Linked DNA regions of Homo sapiens. The protein of the gene in region 2 interacts with the protein of the main gene of each other region in a pairwise test. Each region holds a gene or a part of one and is shown on either strand. Other genes may lie near its edges. The genes, in order: SHANK2 and ARHGAP12.

Region 1 (11,296 bases), on a different chromosome or scaffold from region 2:
AGTGTTGGAGGAGGTGCCTGGTGGGAGGTGATCAGATCATGGTGGGGGAGTTCTCATGAACGGTTTAGCACCATCTTCCCTGGCTACTGTACATAGTGAGCTCTCATGAGATCAGGTTGTTTAAATAGACTGTGGTACCTCCCCCGACTCCCTCTTGCTCCCCCTTTGGTGATCACTGAAAGTTTCTTGAGGCTTCTCCAGAAGCCAAGCAGAAGCCAACATCATGCTTCCCATATAGCCTGCAGAACTCGAGCCAATTAAACCTCATTTTTTTATAAATTACCCAGTCTCAGCTATTTCTTTATAGCAGTGCAAGAATGATCAAATATAGGCTCCTTCCAGACAGCCTCAGATAGAGCCCTCTGGTTGCGTCTAGAAATGACTCCTGACTTATTCTACGTTCAGTTCCAATGGAAATAATGTAAACCCTGCACAATACTGTGAAGGGCTGACATGGACACAGCTAGAGGCTTCTGCCCCTGGGACAGGATGGGCTGGCAGGGAAGAATGTACTGCACTTAGAGTTCACCAGTACAGCCATGACCCTGTGCCTCCCAAGCCCGCAAACCTGGTAGTGATGGGAGGGGAAGAAGAACCCACACGTGTATTCAGACACCTGCACCCACCGCCCACCCACTCGCTGCCCTCTTGGGGCAGCTAGTCTCCTGCAACCAACTCGAAGCTTGGTTTGGGCTTTGGCGAGGCTCTAAACGGCCTTCTAGGTGGTCCTGGCAGAGATCTGGAGGGCACAGAAGAGAGAGTAGAGCTTCTCTTTGGAAGCCAAGGTGAGGAGGGCTTCCAGCAACCTCATTTCATTACAAGTCTTTATGAAGGAGTGCTGTGTCCCACCAGGATGGCTGTGATCATTACTCGGCTATCCCGGAGTCCAGGAGCATGAGAAAAAGAAGTGTTACTGCATTAACAGACGTGGCCCACACAGGCTTTACGAATTCCCCTCTTCGTGTCCGCTGGGGCTGCTACCCGAGGGCCTTTCCTGGTCAGCAGGGACAGTGCACGCAGAGCGGTGTGCATGTGCACCAACCGCGGACTTACCTTGGAGCGAGGCTGGCGGACTTGGCTCCCATTGGTGAATCCAGTCCTTCCCCCGGCTTTGCCAATTTCTCTCGGTTCATTTGCTGTAGGATAGAGTTCAATTCACTAATAACGTTTGCCTTTGGGCCTGAGAGAATCGGGCTTTTGATCTCTGTGACGTCGCCCCACAACTTGGAGGTCCTTGGCTGGAGAACCTTGGCCATCCCAGGCTGGGCACTGCCCGGCGGGGGCGGGGGAGCGGGCGGGGGGATAACAAAGCTATCTACATCTTCTTCCACGAGCGCGTCTTGATAAAGTGCATTGCTTTTGTGAATGATGGGCTTCATTTTTGGCTTAGGAGGTACTGGGGGTTTGTCAACCATAAATGCTTGCCCATCTGCATAGACTGTGCAGGTGTCCACATTCTCTCCACCTTCGGAAGACAGGGTGGAGATGCTAGACACGGTGGAGATAGTGCTGGTCGTCTCGAGGTGGTGGTCGCTGCTACTCCGGCTGTCCACCTCCTCGATCCCAGAGTCGGCGACGGCGTCAAAGCTTTCAGGGGGTGGCAGGAATGAGGCAGGCAGACAGTTTGAAAGACTGGCTGGCTTCTTGCTGTCTGCAGAGTTGGTTGGTTGGCTGGAGTTCAACGAAGGGGACTGAGGGGTGTCGCTTTTCTTCTGCTTCACTAAGTCTGAGAGAGCCGGGACAGAAGCTGCCCGGTCATCGGGGATATCAAAACTATTTGCAAATTCCAGGGGAGGAGGCAATGGCTCTGTAAAAATAAAATCCTCATCCAAGTCCACGGATGCCAGAGGGGGAGGAGGGATGCGGAATGGCAAAATCACCGCCTCTTCCATGGAGCCCACCGCGACGATGGTTCTGCCGGGCACGGTGGTGGGCTCGGGGGCAGCGGAGATCTGTAAAGCACCTTCGGTTTCGGAAACACCTTCTGGCACCTCGGACGGCGAGCTGTCTGGCTTCATCTCCACCTCTGCCTTCTCGTCCTCTTCCTGCAGGGCGTTGTCCAGCTTAGTGGCGTCCACGGTGTGCACCATCAGCAGGCCAGCCGACTTCTGCTGGGACGTGTCCATGATGTCGATCAGCATGTTCTTCTTGTCATCGCCTTTCCGGTCTCGGCCCAGGTCGGTCTCGTACTTGTTCTCCGTCTCCTGCCGCCTCAGGGGTCCCCGGGTGTTCTGCCTGGTGACCGTAGGGAAGCCGGCATCCAGGCTGGGCCGCATTTTGGTATCAATGTAAAGAGGTTTGTTGAGGTCGGCCTTGGGGGCCTCCCCTTTGGGTCCCTGTTGAGACTCCTTCATGGCTCGGTCCCTTGCGGAGAGTGCCAGGGCCAGCGGGGAGCTGGGATCAAGCAGCCGCCCTGTGAGTGGGTGGACATAATTCCCGGGGCCGGCTGTGCCGCTGCTCGCGGAGGGCACTGCTGGGCTGCTCTCGGGCCCCTGGGCTTTGGACGTGGAATTCAGCGGCCTCCCAGCCTCACCCGGAGCACTGGCCTCGGCGCCACCCACGAAATGGTTTTCGGGCTCCCTGGGCGTGGCACTCGGCATGGGGGATGACAGCTGCTCAGCGCTGTCCTCGTCAGCAAAATCCCCCTCCTCGGGGAACATGGAGGGCCGCGTCCTGGGGGCGGGTGGCCCCAGGCCCACATCCTCATCCCCCAGGTCTGTGGAGAGGAAGGCCGGGGAGTTCCTCCTGGCTTCCAGCCGCTTCTCACGGTCGCGGACGGCTCCGGCGATGGCGGCGGCAAAGGGGCTGCTGACGGTCAGGCTTTCGTCAGGCCGCAGCTGGCTCGGTGGCTCCGGGGCCTGGGGGTCGATCTCCATGCTGCTGCCCTGGCTGCTCTTGCCGCTGCTGCTGGTGGACGGCTCCTTCACGATGATGGTCGGGATAGGGATGGAGCACGTCTTCTCGGGGCTGTCCTCCACGTTGGACTGCTTCACCAGCATCCCCTTCCGCCTGGCGGGCTTGGCGGGGACGTAGACGGCTTTGCTGGCGATCTTCCCCACCTCTGAGTATGGGTTTTCTGGCATCTGGCCTCTCTTGTTGCGGAAGTTGGCTTGCGGGCCGGCATTCCGACTGTAGAGGTCTTCAGAGTCCAAGGAGTAGCGGTCCAGCTCTCTCCTGAAGTACATCCCCTTCTCCCTCATCATGGTGGCCACGGTGTCGGACCTGGTGGCGGGGGACACCTTGGCGGCAGAATTCTGATTGAACGCAGGCTTAATCGTCCCGTAGACTCTTGGAGTTGGGGACTTGGGGCAGTTGTAAGTGGTTGGGGAAGGTGGTGGTGGGGACGGGGGCACAGACTGCGGTGGAGGGGGGATGTCCTCAGAGGTGTCCGGCATGGACAGGCTTCTGGTGAACTTCAGCATTGGAGGAGCCAGAAACTGCCGCTCTTCCTCTGTTATTCCTACAAGCAGAAAACAGGTTTAGCTTTAAGTCACAATAGCAACAAAGCCTAAGTTCCTAGGAACGTGCGATACGCTACATCTCCACAAACTCACAAATTCAGATGATGAACCGGATGTTCAGGAAACACAGCACAAGCCACGATGCCGAGTGGTTAGTCACATGGCCCGTCGTGAGCCAAAGGACAAGAAAGGGAAGAACAGAAAGGCACTGGGGATGCTGTGAGTACGCTGCTGCTGTGGGGCCTCCAGGCACAGGCTGCAGCAGGGGAGCTGTGTGAGGCCAGGGCAGGAGGGCCCCTGACGCTGAGCCGTGTGCCAGTCTGCAGGCCAAGTGGGCAGCTCGCCTTGGGGCTGCTTGTGCGTGTGTGTGTGCGCTTACGTGTGCTTGTGCTGGCATTGTGGCATTGTGCTTGGGGCGGGGTTGGCTAGACCAGGAGGTATCCTTCCACCATGCCCCTTCAGGCATGGTAAGGGCTCCTGGGGGTGTTTTTAGGGCAGGGGTCTAAGGCTGTCACCTGTGCATCTGAAATGAGAGCAAAGGGTTGCAGGTATTGCTGTGTTTATGTGGCAAGGATGGTGTGCAGTCCACCGTCCAGATGGCACTTGAGCCCCACGGCTGCCCAGATGTACAGGGAGGCCTCTGCCACCCTGAGCGAAGCCATCTGCCCACGGTTGGCTCTGTGCGTGCTGGGAGGAGGTGCTTTTCTTCCAGGGTCATGTGAATCCTTTCATTGCCTGACTTCACTGGGCCCCACTAAGGGTTCTATGTGTCCTCGAGCTCTCTGGACCTTCAGAGAGATGGATGGCTGGGGAATTGCAGCTCAGAGGAGGGGCCATGTGGGCTCTAGAGCCTGCCCCTGAGGGGAGGGAGCCCAGGTTCCTTTAAAGTCCTGGACTGAGCCAGGAATAGGATCCTGAGCCAGGCCTCAGTGAGCCCCTTCTGGGTCCCAGCGGCAGCCCTGAAAGTGGTCCTGCCAAGACCCTTTGGAGCAGGGGCTGAGAGCCCAGTGGACCACCATAATCGCAACTAACCAGGGTCCAAGTGTGGCTGACCTGGCACAAAGTATGAGTTGACCTAATGAAAATATGTGGATGTTGAATGTGTGGGGATGCAGCTGAGGTCCTACGACAGCCAGCAGGGTGGCCTGAGGGTTCTCTGGGTGTGTTGCCTAGGTGTGACTTTACAGACTGTTCAACAGCTGAAGACACAGACACGTCAACAGGAGCACTTGGAGAAGGGAAGCGAGACACGCACACACACCGACAGACGCGTGGCACAGGGATTTCATGTTGGGAGCATGCAGGTTTTCAAAGAGGTAGCAAAATAAATTACTTGAAATGAAAAAAAGTCCTAGGACAAACTACAATAATTTATTCCAATGAAAACTTCCATTCGATAAGGGTATTCCAAATTTAACATACTCCTTGTGGGAGGACATTTTGGCATTGCAAAGATGGCTCGTTCAAAGTGTTCTCCATTGACCAGTCACTCTGAGTTGGCTGTCTGGCAATTCTGTTCCCAAGGAGTACTAATTTAAGAATACACCTTATAAAGTAAACTGGGTTACATTCAGATTACAGATTCCAAACCGTAAGGTTCACTAACCTGATAGAAAGATTCTGCTGTCTGACAGGAGGAAATCAGTTGTTATTAACCAGTAACCGCAAGACAAATACGCAGCTTTCCCTGAGTTTGCTGGTGCAGGGGGAGCTTTAAGCACAGCAGACACCACCTCCACGGCCACTTACTGCCTAGTGACTGCCTACAGTTATCCACCTGAGACTCACAAGCACGCTGCGCTTTTGCACAGCAGCCCAGAGGCATTTCCAGAACACACAGGACAGTGCCCCTGGGGTGGGCTGGGCAGACCAGAGTCCCAGGGTTGCCTCCACAACTCTCACAGGGCAAGGGCCTTAGCTTCTACCAGAATTGACACAGTAAAGGCAATGCTGAATTATCTCACAAAGGGACTGTCTCAAAGGGTCAAGTGTGACCTTGTCTCAAGGTCAAGTGTACCTTTGCCTGCAACAGGGTCAATAGGAATAATTGTGACATTAAGAAGAAAGGAAGGCAGTTTTCTGCAACACACAGTACATTATTTCATTTCGAGACCTGACCCAACCACCCTTGGAAGTACATCTGCTGAGCTCATACTCCAGGCCTGGTGGTGGCTGGGGAATGCAGGGAACCCACTTACCCTTCCCACCCTGAGCAGGGCAGGGTGGGGGAGGGGGGTTGGCTCGCACCACCCCGCCCACCCTCCCGCTTTACCCTGCTGGAATTATCACAGATAACTGGGCTTCAAGATGACAGAAGCCACCCTAGATTTTGTGTCCTTCAGGGGGGATGAGTTTCATGCCACTCAGATGTTCCAATGGCTCCCTAGTGGGCAAGGCCAGGTTCCCACCCTCTGGTGGGTGGGCTGGCAGGGCCTTGCTGGGGTGGGACGCCAAGGCAACTGTGAGAGGCCCAGGGCTCAGAATTCCTGAGGGGCCTAAGGCTGTGTTTGAAAGCCCAGGGGCAACTTCTGTGGGGGAGTGCCACACTTCTTACCTATTGATTTCTGCCTTCGCATCGTACCTCGAGGGATGCCCAGAAACGGGGCTTTTGGGCTCCCAGGAACAGTGGGCGTCATCACGGCGATTCCTTGGCGTTCGTACACAGACTGCAAACCAGAGAGCCTAGGGTGAGACGCAGCCCTGGCCAGCCCCCACCCACGGTCACAGGGCCCAGAGACCACAAGGGAACTTCCGTCACTGTGGCTTCCCCAAGCTGCTTCTGGAGCCACCTAAAGTCTCCAGTGGGGCTGATGAGAACCACAGCATTGAGGACCCAGGAAGGTCCCTCTCTAGGTGCCTTTCCTATTCGCTGCAGCTGCTATTGGCCTTTGGCCCTGTTAGGATGGCAGCATGCCCTGTTCCATGGAGATGTGGTCTGCTGCAACACCATTTGCCAGAGCAGCTGGACAGATACGTCTCTCTGAGAGGGGGGCCAGGCTGGATGTCCTGTGGGAAAGGGCACAGCGTGGTGGGCAGTGGGGTCTGGCCTGGGTCCATACCCCACTCCCCATGTGCCATGTGACCATCAAGTCCTTACATAGGAGCCACCATCTCCTCTTTCATAAAATGGGCTCCTGACACCAGCCCCACAGTGTGTGCAAAGGCCAACCAGGTATTGTGGTGGTGTGTGGGTGAGCATGATGTGCCAGCTAGCTTAAGCAAGCCCTGGAGCTGCTCAGGGGCACAGCCTGGAGTCTGCAGCAGTGAGCTGTCCCCAGCTTCCTCCCTCTTCAGCCTGTCCCAGGAGGAGCCTAGAGCTCCCCTCCTCCCCTCCACCTTGGAAGCAGAGTCCTGGTGCTGCCAACTCTTTCGCTTCCCCAGGCTGTTGTTTTGTCTGCAAAACTGAGATGGCTCAGGGCCCCAAACCTGTAGTGTTGAAGGCCAACCCGGGAAAATATCAGATGCGGACGCTCAATGGAAATATTCGTGTGCAAGCTTTTATTGCTCCAGCTTTGAGATGCAGTTTCCATGTGTCCACAGCCTCTGTTTGTCTCACTCTATGGCCCTGAGGCTGAGGAGCAAAGTGGGACCCTTTGGGAGATCAAGGGCACCTTGTCTCAGACACCCCCCCAACTTGGTGGGGCATGTGGGTGCCACGAAGGACTGGGAACAAAGTGGGAGGCAAGGACCGGCAGGCAGGGCCTGGAGGGGAAGTCCCCTTGTGGAGTTCAGAGGTGATGGGAGGAGGTGTGAGGGCAGATATTGTAACTGTAATTATTAACAGTTGTTTAATGCACATTACAGAAAAGCCTTGTGGTAAATTTATAATATTTATAGGTGTTATTGTTCAAGAAAAAGCTAGACATAGGCAGTTTGATACTGGTTCAAAGAGAATACTAAGGTAAGCAATCAGGACAGGTAGGCAGTGCTAGAATCTGACATCAGGTTCAGATGGCTGCCTCTGCACAATGGAGAAGCAATCCAAGGGTCCAGGAGGCCACGCCTTGTTCAGGACGTGCCTGGGGGAATCAGCAGCCTCTGCCCCAGGCCCTTTTCCAGCTGTGTGCCCTCCTGACTGCCTAGGGAAGGTGACCATGGCACGGGCAGCCTGCTCTGAGCCAGGCACCCACTGCGCCCAGCAGCCACTGAAGCCCTTCATGGCACTTCTGGCTCCGAGGACAAGTGTTGCCCAGGATCTCGGAGAGTGTGGGGGACTGCCACATGGGATGTGGGACAGACGGCCTCTTCCACACCGGAGCATTTCTGTGCTCTGGGTGGACCAGGAGGCAAGAGCCCCTCTGTCTGAAGAGTGTGTCAAGGCCCCTTACTTCCATGTGCTCACGGGTCCTCAGCCAAGTATGACAGGACACCTTCGAGGCTCAGGGCACTGAGTGAGCGGTAAGGGCAGGGCTTGGATGCAGCCTGCTCTGTCCCACCACTGTGAGTCTGCACAGACCCGGCTCTTTGTCCTGTGGCCACTTAGATTTGGGCCCCACCTCTGGACAGCACGAACCAGACATGAAAGCGTGTGCACCTCAGCTACTGAGACAGCCCACCCACTTCCTGGGCACCGTCGGCCCCCGCCCTCGTGGTCCCAAGGTACGGCCACTCACGTTCATGTCTGAGCCCGCCGGGAAGCACCGGCTGCTGGGCCGCTGCTTGATGGTCGCCACCCTCGGTTCCACAGCCATGTTCTCAGCAGCGCGGGAGGGCTTGGAGGCCGGGACTATCTCCTCGGGTTTATCTGCAATAGAACCGTGAGGATTGGAGCAGCAACACCAGTGGGGGAAGCTGGGTGTAGATAGGAAAGCGCACAGGTGCAGCAGCCACTCCAACATCCAAAACTGTGCAGGGGGCATTTGTTGCTGCTGTGAGGAGCATGCGTGTGCCTCTGCCACATGCATTCCCACTGGGGCATGGGCTCCTTCCCAGGACCTTGCCCTCGGAGGCATGCACGAGGCATGGACATAGAAGACCCTCCACAGCTCGGCCACCTTCTTAAGTGCCCAGCCCCCAAGGGCTCTGAAGCTTTTTGGGACATTTCTGTTTTTTGGGACATTTCTGTGTTTTTTTTTTTTTTTTTTTTTTTTTTGAGACAGTCTCTTGCTCTGTTGCCCAGGCTGGAGTGCAGTGGTGCAATCTTGGCTCACTGCAACCTCCGCCTCCCAGGTTTAAGCAATTCTCTTGCGTCAGCCTCAAGAGTAGCTGGGATTACAGGCACCTGCCACTACGCCCAGCTAATTTTTGTATTTTTAGTAGAGACGGAGTTTCACCATGTTGGCCAGGCTGATCTTGAACTCCTGGCCTCAAGTGATCCACCGGCCTTGGCCTCCCAAAGTGCTGGGATTACAGCCATTTGGGCCATTTCTTTAGTGGAATCACTTGATTCTTTCTAATGGGATTTATTCTTGTGAGGGTTAACTAAACTGACTTTTTGAAGTTTTTTTTTTTGTTTGTTTTTGTTTTTTTTTTTGAAGAGACTCAGACATATGGTTCCTTTGTAACTGTGATTGCCAAGACATGAGGATCTGCCACCCAAGGCAGCGTGGGTGTTTCAGAGGCCAGGGTGCTCGTGGCCCCAGGCGTTAGTAAGTGTTGCAGAGGGAAGGTCTCTGTTTATTTTCCCCAATGCAGAACCTTCCCATTTCCTTTAAAAAAAAAAAAAAAAAAGAAAACCAAAGTTTAGTTATAAGGGATCCTTAGCAATTAACAAAAGTTTTTTAAAGAGGACATTTGCAGCACATTTTTTTTTTTTTTTTTACTTGAAAACTGAAGCACATCCCAGAGCTCTCCTGACGCCTTAGCTTCATCTCAGGGTGTTTGGGATCAGGCATAAGGGTGTGTCTAAGGCTGTTTAAATGCAAGGGCCCTGTGCCACTGAGACCTGGAGAGCTGGTCTTCCAGTCGCGATGTGCATTCTGGAAAAGGTGACCCCAGCTGTACTTCTAAGATGTCACTGGGTTGGGACAAAGCCAGTGTGGTATCTGGTGGGTGTACCCCATTCTGAGCCTTTGAGACAGCACTGGCCTTACTCCCTGGGGAGAAGCAGGCCATCTGGAACATTCTGCCTTCTGGCCACCCTAAGCCCACTCTTGGGGTCTGGTGGCTCCCATGAAGTGTATGCTAGGGCCTTGCCCAGACTTTGAGCCATGAGGCTATTGTGCAAGTTAGAGCTGAGCAGAGTGCAGGGAGGAAGGCCCCCATCTCCAAATTGTTCTTCAAGCTGAGGCGGAAGTTACCTGTCATGGCAGCTTCTCACGGGGAGCTGACCCACGGGCAAAGCTCCCAGAGCCACGGCACGGATCAGGGTTGTCCAACACAAAGGCATCAGGCTCCTGACAAAGGCAGCCCAGACCAGAGGTCCCCACAAGAGGAAGTTTGGGGAGAGGAAATGGGGGTGTGCTGGGGACACTGAGCCAGGCGCCCTGTGATGGCCCCTCAACCTTGCAGAGCAGCTGAGACGTACACAACTCTGACACCTATGGACACTCTCACAGTAGAGTCTGCATGAGGGGCCTGGTTCCAGGCCTGTGTTCCAGACCCTTGGGCCAGTCCTGCCCCCACCGGGCCAGAACCTCAGGGCAGTCTATACTTTTTTTTCTTTTCTTTAAGATGGACTCTCACTGTCACCTGGGCTGCTTGGCTCACTGCAACCTCCACCTCCTGGGTTCAAGCAATTCTCGTGCCTCAGCCTCCTGAGTAGCTGGGATTACAGGCGAGCACCACCATGCCCGGCTAATTTTTGTATTTTTAGTAGAGACGGGGTTTCACCATGTTGGCCAGGCTGGTCTCAGACTCCTGACCTCAAGTGATGTGCCCGCCTTGGCCTCCCAAAGTGCTGGGATTACAGGTGTGAGCCACCACACCCAGCCATACACTTTTAGTCTTCAAACAAGGATGGGGAAGAAAAGGCAGGAGAATGTGCAGCAGAGGCCATATGGCTGTCACGCCCAGCACACTTACCATGGGGCCCTTCAGGGAGGTGTTTGCCGACCCCTGGCCTGGACCACGTTTCCAGTTGTCAGCAAAATGCCAAGTGTTCACGCAAAGCAAGAAAGCCCTTGCCCCATAGTGTCCGGGCAGCCAAATCTCCCCCCACAGCACTCTCTCCCTTCATGACCAAGTCCAGCTGACCAGGCCTGCAGGCTCACTGGGCCCCAATTCTGCGTCCCTGCTCATGCATTCTCTCCTGTTATTCCTGGACCCACAAGCCCTGCTGGCTCTTCGATGAGCCTGATGCCTCCTTGGGGACCTTGTCATTCCCCCAGTGGATGCTAAGCATCTGCTTCTCAGGGAACTGGTCAGGCACGGTAGGAAACACCCGATTCTCATCTCACTTGGCAGTGGGGACATCCTGGCTGTGACCTGTGACCCCAGTCCAGAGCCGTGCTGTCCTCACCTGCGTTCAAGGCCCTCATCCCAGCTCCTCCGGCTGCAGCAGGTGCTGCATGGCTGCCTCATCTCACATTCCCTTTGCTGGGGTCCCTGTCAACCTCCCTGGGCTGCACGGGCTGGGTCCACCTGCCATGGTCCCAGCAATTTGCTTCCTCCAAGGAGCCTTTCCCCTCCCAGGGCTGGGCTGGGACTCCTTGGATGGCTGGGGTCGAATTGGTTTCTGTGCCGGCCTCTGTTCCCTGGCCTCGCCGATCAGCTGGGCTTCTCCCCCTTGACTTGGGACCAGGTGATGCTTGGGTGATCTCCTCTGGCCGGCTGTGATGTGCAACTCCAGCTTGGTCTATCCCTGGAAATGGGGGCGCTAGGCAGTGGCTGTTCTTTGCCTCAAGTGAGATGTGGCCGCTGGTGGCCCCCAGAGTATTTTTCTCCAATGAAACGGG
Region 2 (12,048 bases):
TGTGTCTGACATGTTTCACTTAGATTAATGCTTTTGAGATTCACTCATGTTGTCTCCATAGATCATTCTTTTTTATTGTTGAATGTTAGTTTATTTTATGTATGTACATTACACTTTAATAAAACTGAAATTTAAAAATATATATTATGTAGCAAAATATAGGAAATTTTCAGCCAACTTTAAAAGATGTCACTCTAACCTCATAACATATTCTGAATTCTGCTGTGGGGAAGGAAAAGAGCACAGAACTTGGAGTCAGAGGTCTAAATTTTAAATCTAGGCTTTACCATTTATCAGCTCTCAGGACCCTAGGCACCTTAACTTGCCTGTAAAACAAAGCAAACAATACAAACCTCAAAAGATGTTTGTGAGAAGAAAGAAAAAAAACTTTGTAACTTTCAGACGTCACAGAGTATCTACATTAATCAGTGCTTACTCAAGGAAGCAAAAGTTGTGAGAGTAGAAAAATAGTCACAAACGCACTGATAATTTATAAAACATCCTGTCTCTGTCTCTCGCTGTGTGACTCTGGACAAGTCATTTAACCTCTCTGGGCTTCAGTTTTTTCCATCTGCAAAGTGCAGCTTATTAGTAGTACATACTGCATACTGGGAGAATTAAGTAAATGTGTGTAAGGCACTTGAAATAGTGCATGGAGCATGGCAAGTGCTTTAAAAGTTTTAGGTCTTACTACAAAAAAACTATTATCATCATCCTACCAGACCCAATACTGGCCACCATCCTGCCCAAACAAGCTGTAGCAGTACAAGTGATTAATAATCTAGATCACTGGATTCTCAAACTTTTAGTGAGCAATGGAATAATCTGAAGAACTTTTCTAAAAATAAACTTCTTATTTTAAAAGAGTTTTAGATTTACATAATTACTGCAAAGATAGTCCACAGAGTTCCCATGTACTCTGGACCCAGTTATCCCTATTAACAACTTATGTTAGTATGGTACATTTGTCATATTCAATCAACCAACACTGACACATAACAATTTCCACACTTCATTCAGATTTCCTTAGTATTCTCCTAATGTCCTTTTTCTGTTCCAGGGTCCCATCCAGAATACCACATATACATTGTATAGCCATATCCCAGAGCGTTTTCAAACCACAGATTACAGGCTCTAGCCCTAGATATTCTAACAACAACCGGTATGAGGTGGGGCCCTAAAATTTACATTCTCAAGGATTGCTGATGAGGCCAATCTGAAAATACACTAAGAGTAACATTGGTCTACACTTTTAGACTCCAAAACTGTTGTTCGATACAGCAGTCACTAGTCAAATGTGCCTAATGCAAATTGAGAAATGCTCTAAGTGTAAAACACACTTGATATTTCAAAAAACCTGGTCCAATGTAAAGAACATAAAATATCTCATTAATAATTTTCCTATTACATGTTAAAATGATATTGTGAATATACTAAGTAAAATATATTCATTTATTTCACTTTTTTTCCACGTGCTTACTTTTTATAATGTGAATACTAGAAACTTTAAGCACAAGTAATTTATATAGGCATTACATTTCTATTGGACAGCAGTGGTCTGTGGTCTGGCAGAACAGCATCCATATGACCAAGTGGATATTAGAAGTGCAGGTGATTCCTATGCACGTTAAAATTTGAGAAGCACTAGATTATCAACAGGGGAAGGAGGCTTAGAGACTACACCATTTGGCAGTTCAGTTCAATTAAAGAGCTAATCAATTACAAAACGAAACTGCAGAATATTCATTAAGTCCATGAAGTCAATGAAAGTAATAGGGAAATGGCTGAATCACAGCAAAGCCATATACCAATGAGCCGGGGCCAGCTAACTGAAGAAAAAAAAAAAAAACCACAAGGATAGTGGCCCAATAGGTTCCTCAAAAGAGGTAATCTGAAAAGCCCGATTTGAAGTACAGTGATGCTATGTCGTACTACGACACCTTTCACATCTGATTCATACTACAAAATAGTGCATATTTGCAATTCTAGCCAAAATTGTTAAATACAGGACAAAAGTTTAATTTCACTTTTCTCTCCCATGATTTATTGTAAAACTGTGATGCCCATTTTCTCAGGTAAGTAAAATATTAGTACTACTGTTTAATGGTTAAACAGATCACCACTATTTAGTTTTTACTCCATTTAAAAATTTTAATCACCCGTATTATTTTCAGTAATATCACTTACGTAGAGTACTTAAAAATTTGTAAAGTTCACTTTCTATCAGCCTACTAAAAAACCACTGAGCAGATTCTTTCTAATTAAAGAAAAGTCAAATGATTAACTACAAGTAACATGCTGTTTTTCTACAGCACTTAATCTATTTTCATTTGCACCTCGAAACAACTGGTATTAGCAAATATAAAACCGAAAGAGATGCAATGTATTGATAATTATATATGAACAACTAATATATATATAACTAACTATACAGACGGCATTATCTTAACAATCAATGAGTCATCAGTCTTCTCCAGCTTGATGAAGTACGAACAGAAATCTATCAACAAATATTGGCGCATAAATATACATACACACATTATATTACACTTCTGGGGTTTCTTTTTCCCCCACAGAGAAACACTTTTAGAACAGTGGAGCCGCATGCAACCAGGGGTCGCACATATGTGCGCAGACGGTCTGGCTCGTCAGGTGGCATGGGTGGGGGTCACGCTTTCACTGCCTGCTTTGGGCTCTCAAAACCCAGCTCTGAAACGTTTCCAAGGCAAAATAAAAATAGCCAAAATGCCTATTCAGACCAGAGGAGGTAGAGGAAGATGACCGATTCTGTAAAACACCCTCCTACAGATAAAGAAAAGGCGATATGGGCAAGTACACACACATCTAGGCCATCGTTCCCGACTTTTAAGTATGAAAGAGGCGTGGCTAGGGGCTAGATACTTATTTTTAACACTTCCATTGAAACACCCGGAGTCTCCCAAGGTCTAACCTCTAGAAGTCGGGTGGCAGAACCTGAATCAGAACCCGAGTGAGCCTTCCTTCCTCCACCACCTCCCTTTAGGAACGCATGCCTAAATAGTCGATAAAATCTACTTCTCAATGTCATGATTAACCCAAAAGCCAGCCACAACCAATCGTGTTATTAGAGTGCTAAAAGCCTCTATCCACAACAAACACTCCACTTGGGATGACATTAAAACTTTCGATAAAGGTGTACTTTCAACGTCGTGCTTTAGCCTTTGAAAATACATTTACAAAACTGCAGCTGCAGTCAAAAGGAAAACATCACACGCCTCGAAAGCTGAAGGGCGTGCCTTTTTCTCTAACGAAGACCGTGTGGCCATTTCTTCTCAAAGGGTCTGCAGTCACTTAAGATAGCAACGCGTAAAGGACAGCCGTTCTGAGAAGACAACCAGCTCCCCTGAGATGGGAGGCGGGCTGCACGCTGGTAAAGAGGATTTTTCAATTCAAGGACTTTGAGGAGATTCCGCCCAGATAAGCTGGAGGGGAGCGAATGCACGTCCATCCAGCAGGGGCAGGGCACCGGGAAAGACCGCAAAGAAGAAAGTGTCCGGTTTAAGGTCAACAGTCCTCGAGGGACGCCCCAGGTGGATTCCCCGGGTGGGCTCCCCGGGTGGGTGGAGGCCTGCAAGCCCCACCGCGATTAGGGAGTGGGCCCAGGGCGCGGGAGGGGCCGGGCCGGCCTTTTGCGCACACACACACACACACACACACACCCGCCTTTTGCAGACACACGCGCGCGCACACACCCGCCTTTTGCACATAGACACGCACACACCCGCCTTGTGCACACACGCGCGCACTCTCCCGCACTCACACACACACCCGCGCACCCTCACACTCTCCTCCCTGGGGGCGGGGCGGGCGGGCGCTGCCCTCACACAGGAAGTCAGGAAACCCAGGGGGCAGAGAAGCCACAACTTCGGGCCATTTAAACCCTCTCGCCCACGTCAGCCAATAGGCTGCGCCGGCCCCCTCCCCCTCGGCGCCTAACCCCCGCGCCCAGAGCCCCTCGCTGCGCGCCCGACCTCCCTTTGCGCGCACCTCCGCGGCGCCGCCGCCGCCGCCGCCGCGCCTCCCGCACACGCCTCCCCCCGACTCCACCGCCCTCGGCGGGCACAGCCCGGCCCCGGCGCGCCTTTGTGCAGCGCCTCGCCAACCTGCCCTCCGTCCGCCAGGACCCGCGCCCTGCACCTCACCGGGAGCCCGGCGGCCTCGCAGCAGGCGGCTCCCTTCTTAGTCCGCCCCGCGGCTGCGGGTCGACGACGCGAGCCCGAAGAGCGTTCACACGGCTACGGCCGCGGCCGGCCCGTCCCCGCAGGCTGGCCTCTGAGGGAGGGTAAGTTACAGGGCACGTCGGAGCGCGCCGGCGCGGGGGCGGGGCTCACGTGACGCGCGGGGGCGGGGCGGGAGGCTCACGTGATGGCCCGGGCGAGCTGGGCGGGCGCGGGTCTCCGGGACGGTCTGGGGTGGCTAGGGGGTGCGGCGCCCGGCGGGGATCCGAATAGGGGGCAGCCAGCGTACGGTGTGGGAACTCGGGCCGGCGCGGGAGCCTGCGGTCAAGGGGGCTCAGCACTTTGTAAACAAGGAGTGGGAAGCGTTAAAAAAACGCTCGTAGGGAAAACCAGGGAAGGGCGGACATAGCGCCAGGGTGGCAGGAATGGAGCCCGGGCAAAGACGGCCCTGCCGTGGGCCCTAGCGCTCCCTTCGTCGGCCCCTGGAGCTGCGGCCGGGCGTGGGTCAGTCGTTCACGGGCCCGGAAATTCCACTGGGACACCCGAAAAAGTGCTGCACGCCGCCTGAGGGAGACGGAAAGGGACCCGGGGCACTGAGTCCATTGCTGGGGTCGCCAGGGTACGTGGCAGGACCCGCTGTGCACACTCGGGACTGAGGAGACCCCTGGGACGCGGAGAGCCGCTCCAGGGCAGAACCAGTCCGTCAGCATTTAGCCTTCCACGGGCCTGAGGGTGCGAGCCCTGCGGGGGCCACAGGGTCATTGTCCAAAGTCATCCCCGTTTGCACTGTGGCAGCACCGAACCCGGAAGTAACAGCTTTGGCAGGTCTTTGATGGTGATCCAGTGGCAGGAGGAGCTCAGCTGGAATGGGAATCAGGAAAGAGACCTGGCTTCTGCCATTTATTGGCACTTCACCCTTCTGAACCTCAGCTTTCAAATGAGAGCTGGCTTCTAGGTCTAGAATACAGTGAGTGTGAGAAAAATAACTGAGAGGCGTTGGGACTTCAGTAACTACTCATTCCTTAACCAGTTGTTGATTGTGCCTGTTGTGCCAGGATGAAATATTTGTTAATAATAGAGACCAGAAAGGAGAGGGGGGAAAAAACAAGCATATGTATGATTCAAGCAATGAAGAGCTACTCTCCGGAGTTGGCTCTTTCCTGTGCTTCACTTCGTACTTGAAGATGCCACAATGCCTGGCTTCCTTATCAACCAGCTGAACTCCGAATTGTGCCTTACAGGATGCGAAGAATCCGGTAGGGCAGTGGCAAGACTTTAACAGCTGTGGTTTACAACCTTCTTATTAAATTAAGTCTAATGCGAGCTAAAGTGTTAAGATAGTCTCCATTTAGAAAGGAAAGAGGCTTACAATGAGAATTTTTGAAAAATAAGCCTGAGACTGTGCTGTCTCTATCGTTGCATTTGCTTTTCACAGTCCTTGGCACCCACTGCCTTTTTGTCTCCCTCGGTTTCTAACCCGTTCTGTTTTCTTGCATTTGTTCAGTATAAGGAGTATTTCCTGTATGCTTTGGCAACTATTTTCCATAGACTCTGCTTGTGTTCTCCTTATAAAACCAGAACAAGAGCAGTGCAAAAAAGAAAACGACCCTGATAGGAATGCGCTGATAACCTTACTTTCCCTACTCTCCAAACCTGAATTGGGCACCCTTGGTTTTAGCAAGAGATAGAACTCAACAGTTTGCATACACTTGCGGATCTGCCTGTAACCCCACTTCCTATTTCACAGCCTAATCTCGGATGATACCACAATGCCCACAGTATGCTGATCACCACCAACAGCAGATGGAGGCGGATAAAAAGAGCTTTCTCGCTAGTGTGTTGTTTTAAAAGAACCTGATGGAGAGCTATGATCATATGTAACACTGCCTCTAGTTAGTTTTTAAATAACACTTGTAGCATATGTCTGGCGCCTGTGCTCAGGATTTCAACAGATCATTTTCAGGATTTTGACATTTAACTGGCTTCTTATGAAGTAGCAGAGAGTTCCAAAATGTAGAACTGAAATATAAGCTCCACACACAGGCAGAGATTTGAGTCTGATTTGTTTGTGTGTATATCCCAAGTGCCTAAAAGCACTTGGCATACGGTAGATGCACAATAGATTCCTGTTAAATGTATTTTTAGGTGAAAATGTAGTCTGTACTTTGCATAAACTTGTCCTACTTTCTTCCTAGTTCTTTAATAAGTAACCTACTTTTCATTATATATTTTTAAATGAAAAAACAAAATTATATCTGGCATCACTACTTTGGCTGGGCTATAAAGAAACAGGAATTTGGCAGTATGTATTAAAATTACAAATGCATATATACTCGGAGCCTTGAATTTCATTTCCAGGGATTTATGCCACAGATGTTTCCACACATAAGAAATAACAAGGTGTTTCTTATTGTTGAGAATAGCAAAAGATTGGAAACAAGCTAAGTATCTATCAACAGGATACTAGTTAAATTATGATAGAGCCATATGTTTGAACATTGTGCAGCTGTTAATCAAAAAAACAGAAAGTTCTTTGTTTTAACATTAAGATCTCCAAGATTTTTTTGTTAAGTGAAAAACACAGAAATACGGTACAGAATATTGTATTAAATTGTATATGCATTAAACTAGGACAAAGTAACATGAGGTATGAGAACACAGTAGATGGAAAGCATAAGAAATAGACTTCATTGTATTCATATTTAAACTTTTTGATATTCAAAATTTCAGAATGTTTTATCTATTCAAATAGTGAAAATGTTTAAAATTTTTCTGGCATCTTTTTGTTGTTGTTGTTGTTATTAAAACATTCAGGCTTCTTCTGTTTTATAAAAGTTTACCTGAGTAAAATAAACATATCAAGGAGGCTGGGTGCAGTGGCTCATGCCTATAATCCCAGCACTTTGGGAGGCTGAGGCGGGCAGATTGCTTGAGCTCAGGAATTCAAGACCAACCTGGGCAACATGGCAAGACCCCATCTCTAATGAAAATACAAAAAAAAAAAAATAGCCAGGCATGGTGGTGTGTGCCTGTGGTCTCAGCTACTCCAGAGGCTGAAGTAGGAGGATCACTTCAACCCAGGAGGTGGAGGTTGCAGTTAGTCAAGATTGTGACACTGCACTCCAGCCTGAGTAACAGAGTGAGACCATGTCTCAAATAAATAAATAAATAAATAAATAAATAAAATCAGGTAAGCTAGTGCTCATAGGCAAACTTTTGAAAACCTCAGAGTTTTTGTTCAGATTGAATGATGTCTGTTTCTTACCGTAATAATTTAAAATCCAGGTACATTTATTTTGAGGCTTAGTATACATTTTATCAAATGTATATAAATTTTCAGAAGTACTCTATTTTTCTTCAAGTTTAGTAGAGCCTTCCTTGAACAAGTTTTAACAAATTGGATCCTCCATTTTAAACAATAAAATTAGAATTTCATGGATCATTTGTCTGTTAATTAAGGTCAACAAAATATATTTTGGGAAAAACGCTAAAGGCATATGTTTCTCGTGTATCTGTTCACTCACCCATTTTGTAATATCAACTGCTTCTTGTTTCCATGGGTTACACAGATGCCCTGTAAATGATTTTGTCTGATATGTTTCAGTATTTGATTATATTTATTTGTGGGCTTAATTTCCAGAAATCTCAAAGAGAATAATGAGTACAATAGCAGTCAGATTTGCATAACACATCTTTAAGGGTTTTAGGAGATTTATTAATATTTTCTTGTGAAATCTCACTGCTTTCACTATATAAATTCATATGATCAGTTTTAACTATTATTAAAGACAAATATTAGTACTTGTGGTCAGGTGTGGTGACTCACACCTGCAATCCCAGCACTTTGGGAGGCTTAGGCAAGTGGGTCACCTGAGGTCAGGAGTTCAAGACCAGTCTGGCCAACATGGTGAAACCCCATCTGTACTAAAAATACAAAAAATTAGCTGGACATAGTGGTGCACGCCTGTAGTCCCAGCTACTCAGGAGGCTGAGGCAGGAGGATTGCTTGAACCCGAGAGGCAGAGGTTGCAGTGAGCCAAGATGGTGCCATTGCACTCCAGCCTGGGTAACAGAGGGAGACCCTGTTTCAAAAAATAATAATAATAATTAGTACTTGTAATAGTTGATTATACAAATTAGGACATTCTTGTCATACCCAACTAACTCAAAGAGTCCAGGAGTGGGGGGAAAAATCACTCAGGGCACATAGCACCAGCTCCAAAAATTAAATTTTCTGCAAGCCCAGCTGCTAAAACAGCCTGCTGTAACCATAAGAATAGTTTTACCTAGTAGCTGCTGAAATGACCTACTGTGACTCATAGACTAGTGTTACCTACTGCTGTCTTCAGCAATCAGAGTTTGCCAGCTCCCCAAAGCTTCTCCAGTAGCAGTGAGCTTTCTTTTAAAACAAAACATAACATTTCTCCTTCTAATAAACTACCAACCTTCTTTTTGTTCTTTGAGCATACCAAAGACCACCTGTATGTGCATATATATATATATATATATATATATATATATATCCCAAATTCCAATTCTGTGATTCCCAAATAAGATGTTTAGAGATTCATCTCTATATTTTATTTTGATTTCTACATACTTGAAGTCAGAAGTGGGATCCAAAGCAGGCTCACCTTGGAGAATTAGCACCTGGAATGTGGCATGAAGTACCCAAATTCAGGCCTCTTGAGCCCCCAAACTTCTACGAGCCACCTCTTTTCCCCATGGTGAGTCTCTGTTGGCTTGAACTCATATTTTTTCTTTTGGTTTAGTTCAGTTTTATTTGGGAATTGGTTGGGAGGCATCCTTCCCCGCTACCAGCTATGAAATCTTCTGTTTAGGGGAACTTTCTCCCTCCTTGCTATAGACTTGGTTAAGATGAATACGTTTTTCTTCCTGGTTATGAGGACTCCTGTTTAAAAGGGATTTTTTTCTCTCTTTTGTTAAAGAAGGCTTATTATCCCTCTTGGGGAGTACATACTTTATTTTCTGATTCATTTGCACACTTGGATTTTAAATTGGTTTTTGTGGCCAGGCGCCATGGCTCATGCCCGTAATCCCAGCACTTTAGGAGGCTGAGGCAGGCCGATCATTTGAGCCCAGGAGTTCAAGACCAGCTGGGCAGCATAGTGAGACCCCATCTCATATATATATATATATATATATATATATATATATATAAGTTTTTGTGTATTTGTCATTAAACCAAGTCAGCTAAATTTATTTACAAATGGGCTCTCAAAGTTCAAAGGCATGCCAAAATAATTCCCCCTTCTGAGACTCCAGCTGACGTGTTCAAACATTATAGGGATCATTAAAAAAGTCCGTTTTTCTTAAAACTAAAGTAAAGGGCCACATCTATGAAATCATACAGTCCAAATAGGACAGATATCTCAATTGGTATCTTGAGGCTCAAAGACTCACATTCAAGACTCAAAGATTGCCTCACTGCAAAGTACTGTCACAAAGCTACCTGGGACTCATTCTTCCCCAAAACCTTTCCATCCCCTTCCTCCTCCTCCCCTTTATCCTTCTCTATGCTAAACTCTCTTTTTCCAAAACTCCTCAACTATTCTGGCATACTGATTAATAAGAATCTATTCTTGGCCGGGCACAGTGGCTCACGCCTGTAATGCCAGCACTTTGGGAGGCCAAGGCAGGCAGATCACGAAGTCAGGAGTTCGAGAACAGCCTAGCCAGCATAGTGAAACCCTGTCTCTACTAAAGATACAAAAAATTAGCCAGGTGTGATGGTGGGCCCCTGTAATCCTAGCTATTTGGGAGGCTGAGGCAGGAGAATCGCTTGAACCCGGGAGGCGGAGGTTGCAGTGAGCCGAGATCACGCCACTGCACACCAGCCAGGGCAACAGTGTGAGACTCCATCTCAAAAAAAAATTTAAAAAAGAAAATATATTCTTAATAGTTACTATTAAAACTGTAGGGTTTTTTTTTGAGATGGAGGAGTCTCTCTCCATCGTGTAAGCTGAAATGCAGTGGTGCAATTCGGCTCACCGCAACCTCCACCTCCCAGATTCAAGCAATTCTCGTGTCTCAGCCTCTCAAGTAGTCGGGATTACAGGCGTGCACCACCACACCTGGCTAATTTTTGTATTTTTAGTAGACACAGGGTTTCTCTGTGTTGGCCAGGCTGGTCTTGAACTTCTGGCCTCAGATGATCCACCTGCCTCAAACTCAAAGTGCTGAGATTACAGGCATGAGCCACTGAACCAGCCAAAACTTTAGTTTTCATAGTATTTCTATAGTTATTCTGGCCTTAATGCTGTTTCTTAAAGGCAAAAGATGAAATTTCCATGTAAAAGACACCTTCCCTATACTAGAAGGAAAGGCAGCACTCTTAGTCTCAAGAATAAGTAATAGAAACCAAGAAAATATTGTATAAAGCTCGTTAGAATAGCTCTTGCAGGGTGTGGTGACTCACACCTGTAATCCCAGCACTTTGGGAGTCTGAGGCGGGAAGATCGCTGGAGCTCAGGAGTTTGAAACCAGCCTGGACAACATAGTGAGACTTTATCTCTACTACTTAAAAAACAAAACAAAACAAAACAAAAAATCCCAGCTACTTGGGAGGCTGAGGCAAGAGAATTGCTTGAACCCAGGAGGTGGAGGTTGCAGTGAGCTGAGATCGCACCACTGCACTCCAGCCTGGGCAACACAGCTAGACTCCGTCTCAAAAAAAAAAAAAAAAAAAAAAAAAGCTGGGCGTGGTAGCACGGGCCTGTAGTCCTGGCTACTTGAGAGGCTGAGTTGCTGAGGTAGGAGGATCGCTTGAGCCCAGAAGGTCGAGGCTGCTGTGAGCAGTGATCACACCATTGCTCTCCAGCCCTGGCAACAGATTTTTTTCTGTTGCAAGACCCTGTCTCAAAAATAAATAAATATAAAAATAATAACTCTTATCTTTTGGGGCTCCTCACATAATTGTCATATTTTTCACAGCCCTTTTTTGTCCAATCCAGTATATTGGTAATGACTCAAACTGCTTTACCCAAAATTTGTTTCCCAGCCTTTTTAAGATTACTTATTAAAGAAACAAAGGCCAGGCACAGTGGCTCGTGCCTGTAATCCTAGCACTTTGGGAAGCCTAGGCAGGTGGATTGCTTGAGGTCAGAAGTTCAAGAGCAGCCTGGGGCAACATGGCCCTGTCTCTACAAAAAAAAAAAAAAAAAAAAAATTAGCCAGGCTTGGTGGCAAGTACCTGTAGTCCCAGCTACCTAGGGTCCTGAGGCGGGAGGATAGTTTGAGCCCAGCAGGCAGAGGTTGCAGTGAGCTGAGATCGTGCTACTGCACTCCAGCCTGAGCGACAGAGTGAGATTCTGTCTCAAAAAAAAAAAGACACTCAAAGTTTAGCCTTATGTTGTCAGAAATATGGTTTGAATCCAATTGTCTTCTTATAAACCAGCAAATTTAGGTTACTATGCTTTACTCAAGAATAAACTTTTAATAAAAACTATGTGCCAGCCTGGGCAACACAGTGAGATCTCGTCTCTACAAAAAAAAAAAAAAAGATAGCTGGGTGTGGTGGTCCCAGCTACATGGGAGACTAAGGCAAGAGGATCATTTGAGCCCAGAATGTCAAGGCTAGAGTGAACTATGTTTGTACCACTGCACTGCAGCCTGGGCAATAGAGCAAGACCCAGTCTCAAAAACAAAACAAACCCAAACAAAAAACTATATGGTCTTTGTTTTTGTTTGTATGTTTTTATGGGTTTTTTATTTCTATATGCATATGATCATTTTCTACCAGAATATATAAAAGAGCTCTAATTATTTGACTTAAGATTATTTTCTACCAAAATATATTAAAGAACCCTAA

The links.
Region 1: the proteins of ARHGAP12 (region 2) and SHANK2 interact in binary tests that used the Homo sapiens proteins (3 or more experiments, as listed by UniProt).

Annotation. Positions count from the first base shown.
Region 1 is NC_000011.10:70,484,261-70,495,556, forward strand, and holds part of SHANK2 (SH3 and multiple ankyrin repeat domains protein 2), read right to left. Parts: intron 8,206-11,296; coding exon 8,075-8,205; intron 6,128-8,074; coding exon 6,016-6,127; intron 5,089-6,015; coding exon 5,068-5,088; intron 3,461-5,067; coding exon 1,054-3,460; intron 1-1,053. UniProt on the Homo sapiens protein: Seems to be an adapter protein in the postsynaptic density (PSD) of excitatory synapses that interconnects receptors of the postsynaptic membrane including NMDA-type and metabotropic glutamate receptors, and the actin-based cytoskeleton.
Region 2 is NC_000010.11:31,924,502-31,936,549, forward strand, and holds the start of ARHGAP12 (rho GTPase-activating protein 12), read right to left. Parts: upstream 4,331-12,048; 5' UTR 4,182-4,330; exon of another isoform or gene 4,161-4,181; intron 3,543-4,160; exon of another isoform or gene 1-3,542. UniProt on the Homo sapiens protein: GTPase activator for the Rho-type GTPases by converting them to an inactive GDP-bound state.